4 separate regions of the Homo sapiens genome follow, and all the other regions are linked to region 2. Evidence: fine-mapped expression QTL. A gene starts in region 2. Each other region holds a variant in brackets. All regions are shown on one strand. Distances are between the middles of the regions.

What was found. PIP is the estimated chance that this variant, and not a neighbour inherited with it, causes the effect.
Region 1: its variant is fine-mapped to the expression of TARS3 in cerebellum (GTEx, PIP above 0.99). The same link has a PIP of 0.9 or more in gastroesophageal junction.
Region 3: its variant is fine-mapped to the expression of TARS3 in tibial nerve (GTEx, PIP above 0.99).
Region 4: its variant is fine-mapped to the expression of TARS3 in cerebellar hemisphere (GTEx, PIP above 0.99). The same link has a PIP of 0.9 or more in uterus.

Annotation. Positions count from the first base shown.
Region 1 is chr15:101,641,138-101,646,287 of GRCh38, forward strand. It overlaps TM2D3 (TM2 domain containing 3), which reads right to left. Exons shown (of 6, transcript NM_078474.3): 5 at 3,950-4,025; 6 at 711-1,507. The coding sequence ends at 1,342. Among named protein-coding and RNA genes, the nearest start is that of TM2D3, 8.7 kb to the right of the region's middle. RefSeq lists a silencer at 146-305. The variant T/A (reference allele first, on the strand shown) is at 1,996.
Region 2 is chr15:101,722,262-101,727,411 of GRCh38, forward strand. It overlaps TARS3 (threonyl-tRNA synthetase 3), which reads right to left and starts at 2,212. Exons shown (of 19, transcript NM_152334.3): 1 at 1,830-2,212; 2 at 832-903. The coding sequence starts at 2,126. RefSeq lists a silencer at 1,608-2,497.
Region 3 is chr15:101,701,347-101,706,496 of GRCh38, forward strand. TARS3 (threonyl-tRNA synthetase 3) reads right to left here. Exons shown (of 19, transcript NM_152334.3): 7 at 4,337-4,401; 8 at 2,513-2,591; 9 at 893-1,039. Among named protein-coding and RNA genes, the nearest start is that of TARS3, 21 kb to the right of the region's middle. The variant A/G (reference allele first, on the strand shown) is at 3,047.
Region 4 is chr15:101,656,275-101,661,424 of GRCh38, forward strand. TARS3 (threonyl-tRNA synthetase 3) reads right to left here. Exons shown (of 19, transcript NM_152334.3): 17 at 1,511-1,583; 18 at 648-762. Among named protein-coding and RNA genes, the nearest start is that of TM2D3, 6.5 kb to the left of the region's middle. The variant T/C (reference allele first, on the strand shown) is at 2,187.

The DNA.
Region 1 (5,150 bases), 81 kb before region 2:
TCTAAAGAAACACCTGCTCAATCAACAGTTTAACGGATACAAAAAGTGTGTCTTTGCTCTCAGAAAGAAAGGTCCACATAAACCGGGTTACTCCCATCCTGAAGAACTGCTCATGCTCTGTGACAAGTTCCTCGTAAACAAAACAAAACAAAACCAGTTTTTTTTTCTGTTTCTGGAACTAGAATGGGGAAGCAAATGTAATGGGGATGCGCCACCTAGCGACGAGAGATGGAACTGTCACTCAACTAAGAAAAGGACTGTGCTTTAAACAGCAGCAAGTGATCACTGAAACCTTTCAGGTAAACTGAAATCAATAAATCATCTGCTGAATGAAATATGCAGATATTTTATAGCTTCTAGATATGATATGGTGGTTAACAGTCTTCTGGATAATACACACAAGTGTTTAAAAAGCAGTAACTCAGATACCCACATTTGAAAGAAAAAATGCTAAGTTTTTAAATGTTTCAAAAGCAAGCTTGAGTAAAAATCTTTTTGAATAACTGAGTTTTTTTTCCCCGATAAAGGGTCTATAACAGATCTATACTCAAAAACATTTATATATTTCCACTGTGTCAATAAACCAGCCAATTATGACTCTGTTAGAATGGAGTAATGCCCTGAAAGATAAAAATGTTATTCTTAACAATAAAGGTAAGTTGTAATGATTATTCAAGATTATATTTAATATAGAAAACAGGCCCACAGTATTTCTTAACTTGCAATTTTATTAATTTTTCAGTACTCTTACCTTTTATATACTACTAAGAAAATTTAAACCATAACTAGACATAAACATTCTGCAGTTTAATTCAAATTTTCATATATACAGACCAGACTACATATGTATTACACTGCAAAACTTACACATGACTGAAGCTGAGCCTAATAACTTCAATTAGCCAACAACAGAAACACTCCCACTTCCTGCAGTCACAGCAATTAGCTAACAATAAAAACACTCCCACTTCCTGCAGTCACAGCTGAAAGACTTTTCAAGGCAGACTACATTTGGGCTGGAGATACAAGTGATGTAGTTTGACTTGGGCAATACAAAACAAAAGTCATAGGAATTAAATGGATTTTCAATCACTGTATAATTCATTCTCCTGGCTTAAGTACGTTTTAATTTTTTCACAGAAAAAAATATATTTCAGGCAAATAAAAACAAATTCCAGATTAGCATAGTTCAGCGTTTCATTTATCTTACCTTTATCAAGGCAAACAAAGTACAGATGCTGTACATTAAAAACATAGAAATATATCACTCACACCACATCAACTCCTACGGACAAAAGGGCTTTTTCTAAGCCCTGCTCCTTTCTGAAGCACACACCACAGCTAAATGTACAAAGAGCCATCTGCTGGTCCAACATAGCCAACTCCAATGAGCAGGACGTCTATCAGCGTCCATATTCCCAGGCCACCGAAGCTGAAGAGCTTGCCGAGGCCTTCCCGCCACTGGCCCAGGTAGAAACGGTCTGCTCCAAACCCACCGAGGGTGATGCTGCGATGGCAAACAGACAGGATTCCATGAGACCACCTCCACCCCAGCTGTGGCCAGTCACGGTTTAATCACCACATTATGTCAGATTTGAGAAAGGGCTTCCCCTGATCGTAGCCCTTAACTGGAACACAAGTGACTATTTCACAAACTGACACCACCAAATAATTACGGGCAGGAAGACAGTTTAAATGTCAAAAGTAAACATACAATTTTTAGCTGTACTAAAAAACCAATGTTTTCTTTTTTTAAAGTTATCAATCTCATTGCTTTTTAGTCAAAATAAAGCAAAGACCCAGTCTAACAGGAAGTGCACTAACACGGGGTCAGGGCTGGAGTCAGGAGGAGCTCACCACCACCTGGACGACCTGGATCAAGTCATCCATGTTTTCAGTCTATTTTTTCATTCATCTCTAAAATCTTAATGTTAGGAATAAATCCTTAAAAGATTTAAGGATCTTTTAAATTCTAAGATCTAATAATACTGAAAC[T/A]ATATTATGGAAAATTTCTAAACACCTAACAATAAAAAGTAAAGAGAACAGTACCCATGACTCAGCTCCAATAATCAACACTTGGCCAGCTGTGTTTCATCAAAACCCTCCTCTTTCCCCTCCAGAGTACCCTGAAGCAAACCTTGGGCATCATCTCATTACAGTGATGATTTTAAAAGAAACCATGTTGCCGGGCGCGGTGGCTCACGCCTGTCATCCCAGCACTCTGGGAGGCTGAGGCAGGCGGATCACAAGGTCAGGAGATCCAGACCATCCTGGCTAACACGGTGAAACCCTGTCTCTATTAAAAATACAAAAAATTAGCCAGGCGTGGTGGCGGGCGCCTGTAGTCCCAGCTGCTCGGGAGGCTGAGGCAGGAGAATGGCGTGAACCTGGGAGGTGGAGCTTGCAGTAAGCCGAGATTGAGCCACTGCACTCCAGCCTGGGTGACAGAGAGAGACTCCGTTAAAAAAAAAAAAAAAAAAAAAAAGCAAAAAAAAAAAAAAACCATGTTGAGTGCTGAGAAGTTTTAATTGTTGAAAGTATGTTACAGTATAGTACTGTAAGAGGTTAACAATGTAGGGAAACCAGGTTAGGGGTATATAAGAACTCTACTATCTTTGCAACTTTTCTGTAAATTAAAATTATTCCAAGTTTCAAACATTTATTTATTTTTTTAAAAAGCCAGTTGTTAATTTGAACCATTGTCAGCAATGGTTACTAATCTTTTTTTTTGAGACAGAATCTCACTCTGTCACTGAGGCTGGAGTGCAGTGGTGCAATGCCAGCTCACTGCAGCCTCCTCCTCCTGGGCTCAAGTGATCTTCCCATTGCAGCCTACCACGCAGCTGGAACCACAGACATGAACCACGATGGCAGGCTTTTGTATTTTTGGTAGAGATGGGGTTTCACCATGTTGGCCAGGCTGGTCTTGAACTCCTGACCTCAAGCAATCCGCCAGCCTCGGCCTCCCAAAGCGCTGGGATTACAGGTGTGAGCCATCGCGCCCGCCCTATCTTATTTTTGTTAGTCTCATTTTCTATCCTGGCACCCTCTTTTACTTTTCAGTTACACTTTTCCTGCCAGGCAAGATCCTTCTTTCCTCAGCTCAAATTCTAATGCAGTGGTTCTCAGCAAGGGGCAATTTTGTCCCCTAGGGGACACCTGGCAACATCTGGAGACACACTGTCACAGCTGCAAGGGATGGGGGGTTTGCTACTGACAAGTAGTAGGTAGAGGCCAGTGATGCTGCTCAACACCCTGCTATGCACAGCACAGCCCCAAGACAAAAACTCATTCAGCCCAGAACGTCAGCAGTGATGAGGCTGAGAAATCCTGCCCTATGGCTGCAATGCTGCAGGCCTCAGGGTCTCAGGCACGAACTCAAAACTTCAAGTGTAGGCAGCGTAACCTTTTCACTAATCAGTTAACCAGGGTCTTACCTGCCCTTCCCTTTGGTGGGAAGAACTGCTATAATTTCTTAAAGTACTGTTGAGAAGTTTAACAAACAGCACATTTCTATGTAAGAAATATAAGCCTATAATTATCTGCTGCTGATGAAATTATAGGTAATTTTTAATGTTTTTGTCATTTTCATTTTTCCAGTTTTCAGTGTTCATCATGTATTACTTTTTATAATAGTTACTTAAAATTAAAGATATACATCATAAAACTGCCTATTTTGGATAGTCCACAGCATTTTACTGATTCGTGGTACATTCAGAATGGTAAACGTAATGTGCAGGCATCTTGGGAGAAAAGCTAACATGCCTGCCAGTCAACTCCACGGAGGTACTGGTCTGATCATCTAAACTCTTCCAGCTGTTTGCTAGAGTCTAACACACGTGGTAGGATCTGAGTGAAGAATGAAGGGGACTGAGCTCAATGTCTGAAGATTCCACCAATCCCAAAGAAATGCAAACGGCCTTTTACACTTACGAGTAACAAGGCTTACCTTAGAGCCAGAGCCGTAGACCACTTATAGCCTCCAGTCCAATTGCAATATAGCATTTTGGGAAAAGTACGGTTACCTTAAAAAAAAAAAAGAAAGAAAAATACAGGGTATAAAAAATACTCTCAGAAAGACTTAATTGTAACAAATGGGCTCAAAATTTAAAATGTGAAAAGTCAACTCTCTTTACGGTAATACATGTTGAAGTGAAGAGTACAAAGCGCTTACCATCTATCTACATAGATGTAATATTTAAATCAGCTAAGTTAGGATTACAACGTGAGGAACATGAAATGCTCACCCACATATCAAGACCTACGGGGAAGTTACGAGTATATAAGACAGTGTAGTCTTGAGGCATAAAAATCACCCAATAGGAAAAGAAGAGAAAGTCAAGAACCAGAAATATACAAACACTTCATGTATGAGTGTTATGACAGAGGTCACACACGGATCAACAGGGAAGAGTTGAGACAACTGGCCATCCATGTGGGGGGACAATTAAAGTAGAATCTACCTCACACCATCTACCAGGACCAATTCCAGGTGGATTCTAAACCTAAATGTGAAATGTTATACTTACAACTTTCAAAAGAAAATGTAGCAAATTGTCTTTATTAACCTGGGGTAGAAAAAGATTTCTTAAAACCACCACAAAAAAGGACTAACTCTAATAACTTCCAGTAATTATATTTTTAAAGTTCTGTTCATGAAAATATACAATAATGCAAAAAAAAAAAAAATCAAAATCTGGGAGAGGGTTTCAGGGACAGCACAGGTAATATCCAAAATATAAAAGAAGTCTAGACAACTTTAAGACCAAATTTAAGAATAACCACTCTTGGAGAGAATATGGCTCATCAGGAACAGTTACATAGCGCGGGTGGGAATGCCAGTCAATACAGCCATTTAAAGAATGACACACGCTGGAAAGTACATGCTGAAGAAGCTCTTGCACCTGTGCCATTGGGAGACAGGCAAAGAAATTTGAACAGTCACAACAGCGGAAAACAGCACTTAACCAAATATATTGGAGAATAAACTGTGATACAATCTTACAATAGATTATTACACAGAAGTAAAAAAAAGAAGAGAAGTCACGTGGATGAATCCTAGAGCCACAATGTTTAGGAAATAAGCAAGTCCCAGAAGAGCACACAGCCTGAAATCATTTTACACGGTTCTAAAACATGCATTATTGAAT
Region 2 (5,150 bases):
CATGACACCTCCCTTTTCTACTGTTTACAGAACGTGTACAGAGTCACACATTACAGCACTTACTTGTATACCATCGTACTCTGTTCTCTAGTTGTTTGTCCTGAGTCTGCCTGAATTCCTCAACCAGACTAACTTCTTTGGGCCTAGGTATTCCTTCTTCACTCCTACCAAATGTTGATGCTAGATAAATACTTACTGATTGTTTTAATGCTTTATATACAAAAGCAAAGTAGCTAGTTTCTCGAATACAAAAAAAAAAAAAAGACCGGGGGCGGTGGCTCACGCCTGTAATCCCAGCACTTTGGGAAGCCAAGGTGGGCGGATCATGAGGTCAGGAGATCGAGATCCTCCTGGCTAACACGGTGAAACCCCATCTCTACTAAAAAAAAAAAAAAAAAAAAAAAAAAATTAGCCGGGCTTGGTGGCATGCACCTGTAGTCCCAGCTACTCAGGAGGCTGAGGCAGGAGAATCGCTTGAACCTGGGAGGTGGAGGCTGCAGTAACCGAGATCATGCCATTGCACTCTAGCCTGGGCAACAAGAGCAAACCTCCGCCTTCAAAAAACAAAAAAAAACCAACCAAACAAAAAAAACCAACTCTAGTACTCTAGTAGCACAACTTAAATAGATTAAATACACGTGTTTATTAAACATGGGCAGCTCATTTCTCAAGACATCTCATATTTAAGGCTTGAAAAGTTTTAAATACACTAATGTGACCCAAATAATAATTTAATCAGTAATTTTTATTGGAAATCCTAGGTAATTAACTATATACACATATTTAAAATTACAGGTAGTATTTTATATTGTTTCCACAGCAACAACTTACCTCGCTGTCAGCCTCGCTTTCCTTCATTTTCTTCTTTTTCATGTCCTTGTCTTGGCTTTGACTAGGAGGAGGCTGAAAGATAAATTATAAATGACTCACATCAATGGCAAGAAAAAGCAACACATTTTAAGAAGAGAGTCATGCCAGCAGGCTGCAAGTGCCCCGTGTTTAGAGGCTCATAGCTGGGCTCTCCTGACCACCAGCTACAGCTCTCAGTGGGCAAGTCATTCTCCAGGGTTCAGTCCTTCCTGTCACACTGTTGCTAAGCACATTTAATATATTGTGCTCTTGAAAACCTTTTGTCCTGAACTTTAAACAAATAATGTGGCTGGAAAATGTGTGGTTGCTGCCCGCCACATCAAATGCACTATTTCCTGAAGATGTTGCTAGTTCACCGCAGCTGTCCTTCCTAAAGGACTGCAGAACATCTCAGCCTGAGAAGCTTCAGGACTCAGAAAGTATGATGTTAAAAGAAGATAATTTATCCTTTCTACAAATCATAAAATACTGTATTAAATAAAAATGTTAAATATACAGCTATCCTCTCAAGATGAACCACCAAAACAAGAGCACAAAAAGCGAAAACTTCTCGTCCAAAAAAAACCCAACAACAAAAAAGAACCAGAGGGAATGAGAGTTTACATACGCAGCTGTTAGTCTTTCTGACCAAGGAAAGAATGAGTTTTAAACACTCCAGCATTTTTTCAAACAAATGAAAACACTATTTCTGCTACTGAAAAAGATGCGTGGCAGGCTCTTTAATGGACGAATTGAGAAATCAACAGCATTTGGTTAAGTCTGGCGACTGCTGGAAATCCGGCGGCTCCCCAGGCCACACGGGACCACCGAGCAGGGCAGGGCGGGCCAGCCGCAGGGCACTGGGAGGGCACTCCCCCGGGGCGCCCCCGCACCTGCCCCCGCAGTTGAAAACCTTTCGGTGCGCACCGTCTCGGCCCGCCCCGCCCGCGTCCTCTCCAGTGTCCCCACCGCCCGGTTACCTGTGCGCCGGCCTCCTGCGCCGCCTCTAGCTCCGCGCTCTCCAGCGTGGCCTGGCGGCTCCGCTCCTCGGCGAGGCACAGCCGCAGGCTGCACAGGCGGTGGCGCAGGTCGCAGTTCTCGGCCCGGAGCTGCGCCACCTCCCGCGTGAGGCACGGCCCCTCCGCCTGGCAGCTGTAGGGCGCGTTCAGCTGCTCGTCCCTCAGGCGCTCGACCTCCGACCACAGCCAGCGGATGTCCTCCTCCTGCCGCTCCAGGCGCGACGCCACGGCCTCCGCCGCCAGGGCCTCGGCCGCCATCGCGGCCTCCCTCAGGCACCGACGCCGAGCGGGGTGCCCGCGACTGCGGCGAGGGCGACGCGGACACTCAGCGCACGGCAGAAGACAGGGCTCCCGGGAGGGGCGGGGCGATGGGGCGGGGACGGAGCCATGGGGCCTCGTTGGAGCCGAGGCCTACACGTTGCAGGGGCGGGGCGCTGGGCGGGGAGGGGCGGGGCCTAGGCCAGATACCCTGCAGGGGCGGGGCGGGGCGGGGCGGGGCCTGAGGCCAGATACCCTGCAGGGGCGGGGCGGGGCGGGGCCTGAGGCCAGGCCCACCTTAGGGTCACGGGCAGTGGGGAAATGGGGTCTGAAGGGCCTCCCCTGCCTTTCGAGGCCTGTCTAGAGGCTATTGGCAGTAGTTTTTAGTCCGTTGAAACGAAAATCTTCCAAAACCTTGCAAAAAGGCCATCGTCTGCGTTCTCCAAAAAGGCTTCACCCTTTCTTCCTCTTGAATTCTGGCAGTCACCATTCTTTTGCCTTGCAAACAGGTTCTAAAAAGTGGCCATTCATTATAAATGGACTTTCTGGCCTTTCGTGCCAAACTTGCCCAAGTACTGAGGCCTCTGGGCCAGGGCATATAGAAAATCGCTGTGAAATCTAAATCCGACCAGCACGAAATTACTGGCTCCTTGAGTCTAGGGCAAATGCCACATATATCTTTGTATCCCTCTTAACCATGAGCGTGAAACTTCCTGGAGCAGGAACAGAAATTGATTTTTATCACTATTCTTAGGGCTTAGGATGTGACAAACACTGTTCTAAACTCTGTAACAGTAGTAACTCCTTTAATCTTCATAACAGGAGATACTGTTATATCCGCTTATAGCTGGAGAAATTGAAGCACAGTGAGACTGTGTTACTTGACTAAGGTCACACAGCCACTACATGACAAAGGGGGAATCAAACTCAGATAGTCTGATGCCAGTTTCTACACACTTAACACTAGTACTTTTCAACTTTGGCAGAATTTAATTGAGCATGTCATATAATGTGATACAGGTAATAATGCCCTTATAAGAGTCCTGAAGTGGAAGAGCTTAGCTTGGACTGGTGTGGTTTGAGAAAGGGAGAAAATTTTGAGAAAGGGGAAAAGGTTTATTTTGCTCTGGAAAATAAAGGTTGGGAGATGTTAGCAAGGAGGAAAAGCAGGTAAATTCCACTCCAGGAGCAGAATCAGTGCAGGAGAAGGAGCGGAGGGGGACAAGCTCATTGGATTAAGCTAAGTGGAATCCCAAACAGCACCCAGGAGGAGATTCCATGAAGTATGTTGCTAACCAATATCACTGTATCTTTTTTAGTCCTTCCTCAGGAAGCCTCTGGATACAGTTACATAGGACCCACTGACTCCTCATTATTCATCATTTCTCAATCCACTGCCATGGAGTTTCTGCTTCTGCCATTCTGTCATGACCAACACATCACTGAATGTCATGGACCCACTTAAGCCACCCCAGAATTTCCTCGGGACCCTCTGGAATTTGTCTCTCTTGGGTCTCCATTCCCAATACCTAGGCAACCACCAGTCTGCTTCCTGTCACTATAGGTTAGTTTGCATTTTCTTGATTTTTCTACACATGGAACCACACCGTATGTCCTCCTTTTGTTTAGCTACTTTCAGTCGGCACAATAATTTTGATATTTACCTATGTTTGTGTGTATCTATTGTTCTTTTTTTCTGAGTAGTATTCCATTGTATGGATATACCATAATTTGTTTATTCATTTGTTGATGGAAAATTTGGGTTATTTCCAGGTTTTAGCTAGGATCACACAATACCCAGTGAGCCCATTGGGTTTCCAAACTCACACTGTAGTTATTTCGTCAGTTCCAGAATGCAGAGTTTGAATAGATATACTCCAAACTGGCAGAATCCCTACAGTGTTTCCCTGACCCTCGGACATAAGGCTATTATTCTGGTAGGAAAGGCCAAGCAGAAACCACTAGAACTTTATCAACATACAAAAATAATAAATCAAAAGTAATACTGCATTCCTGAAGGAATTGCACAGATTACTGTTGCCTTCAAGAACTTGAAAGATGCAGGGGTGGAGATTCTCATCACACCCCATTTACCTTACCTTACCATCCCATTTACATTTAGCCTATGTAGAAGACAAATGGATGTTAGAGAATTATAGTAGATTAATATAAATTTAATTAGATGGTGATTCCAGTTGCAGCTGCTCTTCCAGATATGATTTCATTGTTGGAGTAAATCAGCATAACCCCTAGCACCTGATATGCACCTATTGAGCTGGCTAATACTTCTTTCTTTATATCTATTAGTTAAGGGCTATCGAGCACCATTTTATTTCAGCTGACAAGGCTGGCAATACACCTTCACAGGGTATCACCACAAGACAATATAAACTCTTTAGTTTTATGTGATAATCTAGTCCACAAGGACTTTGATTGCTGCTGTATTCCATAGGATATCATGCTGGTGTCCTATCATTGATGATAGCATGCTGATTTTCCCTGATGAGCAGGAAATAGCAAATACTATAGTCACCTTGATAAGGCATGTGGAGGTGGTAGAGAAGGAAATATATCCCCAAATGTAAAAATTCAGAGGGCTGTCACCTCAGTGAAACTTCTAGGCATTAAGTAATTCAGAGCATTTAGAGATGCCACTTTGGAGGCAACATATACCTCATTTGGACATTATTTTTCTAAACCAATTACTATGTAACTCAAGACTGCCAGTGTTAAGTAAGACTGAGAACCTAACAAGATTCTGAAACAGGTAATGCTGCTATGCAAGCTACTTTTCTATGTGGGCCACATGAGCAACAGATCTGATGGTGCTTGAAATGTCTGTGGCAGATAAGAGTTACCCAACCTAGAGTGCAGTGGTAAGATCTTGGCTCATTGCAACCTCGACCTGCTGGGCTCAAGCAACCCTCCCACCTCAGCCTCCTGAGTAACTGGGACTACAGGTGCATACCACCATGCCCAGCTAATTAAAAAAATTTTTGTAGTGATGGGGTCTTGCTACATTGC
Region 3 (5,150 bases), 21 kb before region 2:
CCAATCATATTTATGCCTAATTAGCTTTGAACTTAGCTTTTACTTCACCTTCTGCTATTCTCTGCGAATTTTCTTACTTGGCACACTTGGAGTACGGCACTCATGGGGAGACAACACGGTAGAAAGACCAAAAAAGTTCATTGCAGGAGGTGGGCTTTAGGTGATGATGATCATCATGGCTGCTGCCTACTGAGAGCCTATCCTGTACCAGGCACCGTCACCCAGTTTCTGTCTTCACAGCCACCCTGCAAGGCTACCCAGCAAGGAAGACAAGGACACGGAGCTTGCCCATCATCTAACACAACTAGTGAGTACAAGGACTGGGCATAAAGCTCAGGCCGAGCTGCTTTCCAGTCTGAGCTTTTCCTTCTACACGCTGCTCTGTCTCCCAGATACAAAGGATGCTATAAAGTGCACAGAATGTAAAAAACAACTCTTTTTTTTTTTGAGACTGAGTCTCACTCTGTCGCCCAGGCTGGAGTGCAGTGGAGCGATCTCAGCTCACTGCAACCTCCGCCTGCCGGGCCCAAGTGATTCTCCTGCCTCAGCTTCCAGAGTAGCTGGGACTACAAGCGCGTGCTGCCACGCCTGGCTAATTTTTTTGTATTTCTAGTAGAGGTGGGGTTTCACCAAAAACAACTTTATTTTTTATCATGACAAAAATAAGAGAAGGGTACAATTTTCAAAAATTAATAAAAGATACAGGAAGGAAAGAGGTTAGAAGACATCTGGGGTATTAAAATGAAAGCACTGAGCAGCGGACTGTGAGTGCCAGCAAAATAGGAGAGAAGAAGAAGAAATCTTATTTTTAAAGCAACTTAGTTTTGTGAGACAGAAACATTCCTATGTTGGCTTATGATTACATCTCCAGTGATTAAGATGTGGGGCATACCTTCCCGATCTTCCTGTGATCTCGGTTCTTTGCTTCCTCTTGGAACTTTTCCCAGTCTCTCATCATCTTGTTATCAGGAAAGGATATTCCATAGATCCTCTGCAATGTTTCCATTTCCGGATTGCCCTCCCAATATGTTGAGGAATTCTAAATATCAAAGAGGATTTTGGTAAATATATCATACATTCAGTTGTAAGTAAAACTGCTCTTAAATACAAATGCAATTTTCCACTATCATATCAACAAAGCAGCCCTGCATGGTGGCTCATGCCTATAATCCCAGCACTTTGGGAGGCCAAGGTGGTTAGATCATTTGAGCTCAGGAGTTTGAGACTCGCCTGGACAACGTGGCAAAACCCCATCTGTACAGAAAATACAAAAACTAGCCAGGCACGATGGCACATGCCTGTAATCCCAGCTACTTGGGAGACTGGGGCAGGAGGACTGTTTGAGCCCAGGAGGTCGAGGCTGCAGTGAGCAGTGTTTGTGCCACTGCACTCCAACCTGGGTGACAATGCAAGACCTTGTCTCAAAATCAAACAAACAAACAAACAAAATCAACAAAGCTTAAAGAAGACTATTTGTAGTGCTGGGAACAATCTTAAAATGGATTCTAACTAAACCTTCCCAGCCTAAATTATACCATTAACCAGCAAATTATGTAGAGTCTGCTATGGATTCTAGGAATGACAGTGAGAGCACACAGAAAGGAGGGAAGGCTAAGCAGCAATCATAATCACCAAGGATGGGGCAGAACAGACAGTAGGTATGGGGAAGTAAAGGTCGGTCTTGCTGACCTACAGTCAATGATTAAGAACAGTGCCATTAGCCAGCCCCATTTTACCTGTAAGAAAATCAAAGCCAAGAAAGGCTGGGACTGCCAAGTCAGTCCCATGCCTCCTAATCCCAGAGCGATGTTTTCTCCATTACAACATCATATCCCCTCCTGCTGTTTTCTTTATGCCGCAATACATTACTTTCACATGCAGACAAATATTCTTGCTTACATCAGGGCTATTCAAGAAAACCATAGTATATAGAACAATATTTTAAAATAGTGTATGAAAAAGGCCAGGCGCAGTGGCTCATGCCTATAATCCCAGCACTTCGGGAGGCTGAGGCAGGCGGATCACCTGAGGTTAGGAGTTCGAGACCAGCCTGACCAATGTGGTAAAACCCCATCTCGACTAAAAATAGAAAAATTAGCCGGGTGGGGTGGTGCAGGCCTGTAATCACAGCTCCTCAGGAGGCTGGGGCAGGAGAATCGCTTGAACCCAGGAGGCGGAGATTGCAGTGAGCCAAGATCACACCACTGCACTCCAGCCTGGACAACAGAGCAAGACTCTGTCTCAGAAAAATAAAAAATAAAATAAAATATCGTATGAAAAAGAAATGTTATAACACTTACAATAAGGTAAAATGATAAACAAAAGCCACCTATAGTGTTCTAATTATCAAAATTCTAAATGATTTTATTAGTTTTCATCAAATAAGAATGAAATATTTTAAAATATCATGATGTTCAGACTACAAAAGATATGATTGAATAAGATATGATTAAAATCCTTTAATAGCTAGTGCACCTTAAGTTTACTGTATTAAAAAAAAATCAATCCTTACCTTAAAAATTTTGATGGTTTTAATTTTTCCAGTGTGTCTTACATGTGGACCTTTGCAAAGGTCAATTAATGGACCGCACCTATAATGAAATATTTAGGACATGCTCAGGCACAGTTACAGTGTTCTGGACTATTCATTATAAGCCATAATATCCTATGTTTTAGGTAGAGCTTCACTTATTTATATGTAGCAATGCCATTTTTAATTTAGGGTGAAGGAGAGAGGTGATTCATCTAGCCTCAGAGTCCACTCTGCCCTCTAGATTCAAAAACCACAGAACATCTTCTGAAAGAAACTAGGCAATTCTCTGATTAAAAACTTAAAAATTACAATGAATACAAAAAGGGACTGGCTTACAGAGTGGCAAACACGAAAATGTCATCTCTCTCAATGGTCAGTCTTTGTGTATTGTTCTCTAGGGAGAGAGCTTGTAAACAACACTCAGATGAAGGGAAGGAATGCCAAATTAGCATGAAAGGCTTCAATACTCTAATCTTTACATAGAAAGTCACAGGGCCGGGTGTGGTGGCTCAC[A/G]CCTGTAATCCCAGCACTTTGGGAGGCCGAGGCGGGTGGATCACGAGGTCAGGCATTCGAGACCAGCCTCGCCAACATAGTGAAACCCTGTCTCTAATAAAAAATATAAAAAATTAGCTGGGCGTGGTGGTGGGCGCCTGTAATCCCAGCTACTTGGGAGGCTGAGGCAGGAGAATCACTTGAACCTGGGAGGCAGAGGTTGCGGTGAACCGAGGTCGCGCCATCGCACTCCAGCCCGGGCAACAGTGCAAGACTCCATCTCAAAAAATTAAAAAAAAAAAAAAAAAGAAAGCCATAAAAGAAAAGCTTTATTTTTTTTTCAAAAATTAAATACAAGCCATTCAAATTGAAAAACTACAAAAAGTGTCAATGTTGACGTAAGTAAGGTTCTCAAACCCAAGAGCTCAAGCATTAGAAGCCAGAAATTTAAAACTTGGCCTGTTTTCTACATTTTCATTTATTTTTAAGCTTTAAGAAATGCACCGTGCATAGCTTTGCACAAAGGGGATATGATTTTACTTACAGTACAATTAAACCAGAGAACCATAAGTCCTTGACTGTCGAAAGTAAGTACCATGAGGGAGAATATCTGTGGTTATAATTAAATAAATACCAGGTCTTCTAAGGCGGTACTGTGATAGTCCTAGCAGCACCCAGATGGCCGGAACACACGGAAAGGGGAACAGCAATGACATATAAGGCGTATACACACGAATAAAGAAAAAGGTGCTCAGGAACCTGAGGTTAAATGAACAGAGCTAAGTGATTCTGGTATTAACTTCACTTGTCTCCTCTTACATTTGATCCTGCCTTTGTTTCCCAGTATTTTCTTTTGGTCTCATCATGAGTATCCTGCTAATGCATGAAGACTGTACACTTGGACTCTGGACAATGGGGCAGACTCTTCTACACTTGCACTCTGGACAGTAAGTATGAGGCAGAGAATCACTGCCGAGGAGATGGCTTGTAATGGCCCCCACTGCCACATTAATAAGAACGTGGAAGGACAGAATAGAAACTCCTTTCCCAACAGTATCACTCACATGGAGAAAAATCCTGTTATAGCTAACACCCAGGAAACAAAATATGGGTCTCAGTACTGTCCTGATTACTAAAAAGGGGAAAATAATCATTTCTCTTTAGTGAAAACATTTTGAAGATTGTAACTACGGTAGATTATCAACTACACAACTTGAAAAATCGATCTCCAACCAGAAAACAAACTCGGCCTCTACTGCTAACACCTTCAAGTTTACCACTGAGCAGCGTTTACCATGTGTGGACACAAACCTGTACACGGTGGTAGTTGCAGTGTTAACTTTCTCATTCAGAATGCGGCATTTAAATTTATTGTACTACGAAGAAAAACATATTTACACATTATTACACACAATGTTGAAATGAAGAAAACAACTCTACTTTTCTTCAAGAAACATTGAAAGGTCATCTACTGATGTTCTAGGTGCTGAGACACGAGGGATACAAAGAGCTCACAGCCTTGAGCGACACCGTGCAGCATGGAGGCCACAAGCCACGTGGCTACTGGGCATTTCAAATGCCATTAATTTGTGGTTGTTGTTGTTGTTTTTGAGACAGAGTCTCACTCCCTCACCCAGGCTAGGGTGCAGTGCCACCATCTTGGCTCACTGCAACGTCCGTCTCCCTGGTTCAAGCGATTCTGCCTCAGCCTCCCGTGTAGCTGGAATTACAGGCATGTACCACCATGCCTGTATTGTATTTTTGTATTTTTACTATGTGCTAATTTTTGTATTTTTAGTAGAGACAGGGTTTCACTATGTTGGCCAGGCTGGTCTCAAACTCCTGACCTCTAGTGATCCGCCTGCCTTGGCCTCCCAAAGTACTGGGATTACAGGTGTGAGCCACCACACCTGGCCTCAAATGCCACTAATTTGAAAGAAGATGTGCAGTGAGTATAAAACACACTGGACTTTGGAAGTATAATGTTGCAAAAAGAAGAAGAAAATCATTCGTTAATCATTCTTTATACTGGCTACCATTGAAATTATACTTTTTATATATTGGGTTAAAAATTTGTTAAAATTAATTGCAACTTTTACTTTTAAAATGTAGCTGCCATAAAATT
Region 4 (5,150 bases), 66 kb before region 2:
TCTGGTGTCAAACATTATCATTGAAACACTGTCAATAGAACAATGCTATGCATATTTATTTCGCCTTCTACAGACTCTCAACTTACAAGAAATAGCAATACTGTGCCTGCAGTTATATCAGTGTTAGTTTCTCTTAATTTTGGAATCATTTTTAAAGCCTAAATTTTAGATTCTGCATCTAATTAGTCATATGCTAAAAGGACATTTTACTTTTCATCTAAATCTTTTCCTTTAGATCATTTTAAATTTGGGATCTTTTCTTTCTGTTAGTTTAATCCCAAAGTTTCCTAATAAGCCAGAAAAGTGAGGGAAAATATTACAGGCCTGTGAGGCTGAAATATAAAGTATATAATTCTACTGATGGGATCATTTTCAGAGTTGTTTTCGTTGTTTGCTTGCAATATGAACTATTGCTAGTAAAACTATCCCAGGGGATTCAGGTGAAACTTTACAACTCTTCTTCCAGCAAACAACAAAGAGTACCTAGGAACAGCTAAGCTAGGAATGCTATGGACTCTTCCTTTTGTGTAAGTATTAAATAGACAAATCATGATAATCAAGTAGTTGAACCATATTTCTTATTTGGTCTTTTGGAATTGAAGTGGGAAAAAAAAGCATTTGGAAAAATATATACAAACTTAAATTACCCAAAATAAAATTATACTGAGCCAGCTGTGCATTTCGTATTTTCTTATTTAGTGTACAACTGTGATCCAAGTCAACGTCAGCCATAAATCCTTCTTCAAAAAATTCACTGGATACCTAGAAGAAAATGAAACACCTTTACTGTTACATTATGGTACCTAGCCTCCAAGAAGACCCCGTTGTTCCCCACTCTTGGTATTCACACCTTTGTATAGTTCCCTGCTCACTATACCAGAGCGGGTCTGCGTGACCATAAAGAAGTGCGGAAGTGTCGGCGCATCGTTTCTGAGACTAGTTTATAAAAGGCTGCAGCTCCCATCTCTCTCAGATCACTTGCTCTGGGGGAAACCAGCCACCATGCAGTGAGGACATTCAGGCAAGCAAGCACCCAGGTGATGAGGAGCTGCATCCACCAACTGTGAGCGAGCCCCGAGCTCCGCAGCCCTGGCTGACAGCCTGACTGCAGCCCCAGGAGACGCTCTGCGCCAGAATCCACCAGCTGAGCTGCTCCCAGACCCTGACTCGTAGGAACTGTGAGATCATCAATGTTTGTTGTTTAAAGCTGCTAAGTTTTGGGGTCACTTGTGACACAGCAACAGATAATATTCTTCCCTAATAGAGCTGTGTAGAAATGAATAATTATGATATGTTTTAAAATACTAATTTCTCAAAAAACATTAAGAATGAAATAGTTCTGAGACAGCTGCAGAGACATGATTCGTGTGTTACTCCCACCTGCTGAAAACACGGTTTAAGCTAATGTGTCAGTTCTGCAATATTTTAAAGCATGAAGGACACTCCAAATCGATGACCTACACAGAATACATGCAAGATTATTATGTACTTTAAACACCTCTGATTTTACCTGAAGTGCATATTTTTCACAAGTTGGCCCCACAGGGATGACCATCACCTGACGAGGAGATAGCCAGAAAGGCCTGAAAAATATATATAAAATATGTATTTTCAAAGTGTAATAATGGCTACTTATTACATGATTTTCAAATAACCAAAGATTCTTTTAAAGACTTCACAAGAGGGCAGTTTCAGTAGCGCAGCATGGAAGAAAACTAAATTATATTAAAGTTTGAAGGCAGCAAAGTAAATGAAAGGAGAATTTTGGAATTTTGATAGCACAAGTGCAGGTAGAATGAGCTGGCAGACAGCCCAAAGGGCTGAGCATGCACTTACTGTCTGCCCCAGCAATTGCACTCCTGGCATTTGTCCCAGAGAAATGAAAGCGCAGGTTCACACACAATACTGCTCACTAACGTCCATAGCAGCTTTATTTATAATAGCCCCAAACAGGAAACACACACCCCAAATGTCCTTTAGCGGGTGAATGGCCAAACTGTGGTGCATCCACACTGTGGAACGTGGAACACCATCAGCAAAAAAAAAAAAAAAAAAAAGGAACCAACTAATTTATCTCGAAACAAAACAACATGGATGGCTCTTAAGGGAATTCCACTGAGTGAAAAAAAAAAAGCCTACTTCAAAAGTTTGTGTACTCTGTAAATCCATTTATGTAATATTCTTTA[T/C]ATGACAAAATGATGGAGCTAGAGAACAAGTTCATGGCTGTCAGATAGGAGGACAGGGTGGGATGGTTTGAGTGTGGGGAAAAAAGGGCAGCAGGAGGGAGCCTTACAAGTGATGGACTGTCCTGTGCCTTGACTGGTGGCCTTACACCATCTGTCCGTGTGACACAGCTAAATACACGTTCACACAAATGAGTGCATGTGAGGCTGGTGAAATCGGAACAAGGTTGGTGGACAGTCTCAATGTCTAGTTCTTGGCTGTGATATTGTATCTAGTTTTGCAAGATGTTACCATTGAGGAAAACTGGGTAAAGAGTGTGCTGGACTTCTCTGTATAACTTCTTTTTTATTTTTTTTGAGATGGAATCTTGCTCACCCAGGCTAGAGTGCAGTGGCGTGATCTCGGCTCACTGCAACCTCTGCCTCCCGAGTTCAAGTGATTCTCCTAGCTCAGCCTCCTGAGTAGCTGGGATTACAGCCATTGCCACCACACCCAGCTAATTTTTGTATTTTCAGTAGAGACGGGGTTTCACCATGTTGGCCAGACTGGTCTTGAACTCCTGACCTCAGGTGATCCACCCACCTCGGCCTCCCAAAGGTTGGGATTACAGGCGTGAGCCACCACATCCGGCCTCTATATAACTTCTTAGAACAACATGCGAACCTACAATTATTTCAAAATATAATTTTTCTAGAATAAAAAAGATGGCAGGGTAGGTATAAACAGTGTCCGCTGTGGGACATGTTTGCCCTTTCCCTGTCATAGTGAGTATTTAGTCTGAAGGTGAAAGGACATGCAAGGAGGACTATTTCAGATAGCATTTTATAAATGTGCATATTTATATATTTATTCTCAAATTACAAACACAAAACAATACATGATAAATGGTAGAACACAGAAATACAGGGTATATAATGGCAACTACATATTTCCTTTTGAGCTCTGTCCTTATCCCATCCCCAGCCCTACTCCTCTCAAGGACCCACACTTTAGCCATCTTTACTTTTGGCTCCTGGGGAGATTTCCCCACAAGGCTGACTGCTGTCTGAAGTCTGGATGTATGAAGTGCAGGGAGTATACTTCCGTCTCTGCGACAAAGGAAGGCATGCTCAGTGCACTGGCCCCAACCACCTCCTGTCTCCCTCTCCATCTCCTATTTCACTAGTTCTCTCTCTTTTCTTTAAACCACTTTCACTGCAACCATTCTAATGCAAAACACCATCATCTCTTACCTATGGTAAACTATTTAAAACCAACTGGAAAGAAATATAAACATGTTAACTCATACTCAGGCGGCATACATATTCATACCCATACTTTTGGCTTAACTGTAACTTCAACAGCTTAGAAACTCCATGATACCTAAGTATATTTCTCTATGATCACAAAATATCAGGAATATACACAGACTCTCTAGCTACCCAGGTCTTTTGGAAGACACTTTGTTTGGGAAACTTTCCACCTTATGTTTCCTGCTCAAAAATTTGCTTCCCCAGTCTCGCTGGACATGAATGGTAGTATGCATGGGTGTGATCTAGGTTCTGCTAATGTATAAACATGGCACTCTGACTTAAGACAGAGTGGAGAAGGAGGCACCACATGGAATCCATTATGGCAAGGAAAGGTGATGCAGAGACATGGAGCTTTTGGAGGAACTGGTTGCAGTGACCCTAGCAGTATCATCCGGTGCCCAGTGTCCACAGTGGGAGCTGCAGGGACTGTGCCCGGCAATAGTAGCAGTGGGGGCAGTAGTTTCTGAAGAGAGAGCTAAACTGCATGAGCAGATGCTTAGCCAATTTCTAAAAATGGAATGGGAGGTAGAAATTTCACAGGTGGTTGCTGGTTTGCAGCATTTCCACATACTAGGATACATCATCACAAGATGTTGTCTGCCAGCTGGTGCTATAACTGCTAGTAAAGCCACTTGCTTCTGAATGCATGGTGATAGTAGTGAATCCCTTAATGTCAGTGCAATGCTTTACTTATTTGCTATAAAATCTCTTTCATAGTCAGAAGCACTGTTGTGTTCCTGGCAGCACCTAAGTACATATTTGGTGCCACTGGCAGAAGCATGGCAGCAAAGAAGAGCAAAGCAAAATCCACAGTGAGTCTCTCTTCAGTGAGAATGAGGCATTGCTCCTTACATGATGAAAGGGATCCAACGTAATCAACCTGCTACAAGACCACTGGCTATTACCCCAGGTTATGGTACCATCCCGGGGGATCACAATTAATCACTGACTGATGGCAACCTGAATTCTCAGAAGAGATGTAGCCAGATGGAACTTAGTGAGGCAAAGTCCATGTCTTTGAGCCCATGCCTATCCACCAGTGGCCACTTTGCCCATGAGCCATTGAGCAACAACTAGGGGAAAAAGCAGCTGATTTTAACAGAATGGGTCCTCTTGTATTGGAATACTGAAAAATTCCTCAACAGCGGGGGCCTTTTGGTGGCAATACCACCTCTGTTGGCCCATTCTGAGTGATCATCCACATTTCTGCTTCCCAAATCTATGTAATTTGTTTTTCAATCTAATTAGTTCTAAATCTTTGACTCTGTGGCCAAAGCAGTAACTAGAGCCTGTGCATCCATGTAACTCCTTATCTCCGGCCATTCTTCCTTCCGGGCAAAAAGGACCACAGGATGCACCACTCAAAAAGGACCACAAGATGCACCACTCAAAAAAGACCACAAGATGCACCACTCAAAATTCTGCACTTTAGGACACTTCCCTTCCCCACTGTCATCCTAAATGGGCTGTGCTGCTGAGCCATCCTCTTTGAGTTTGTGCCATTTATGAATCAGGTTTACATGTTTTCCTCCTCAGTGGCTGTAGGGAACCCCAAAGGCAAACAATATGGGTTGAAGGAAGGATGGCTGGAGGGCAAGAGGTGGTACCTAGGAGTGTGGGTCACATGTTTTCAGGACAGCAACTAGATCTCTGAAGGGCTTGAAACAGGTAAAA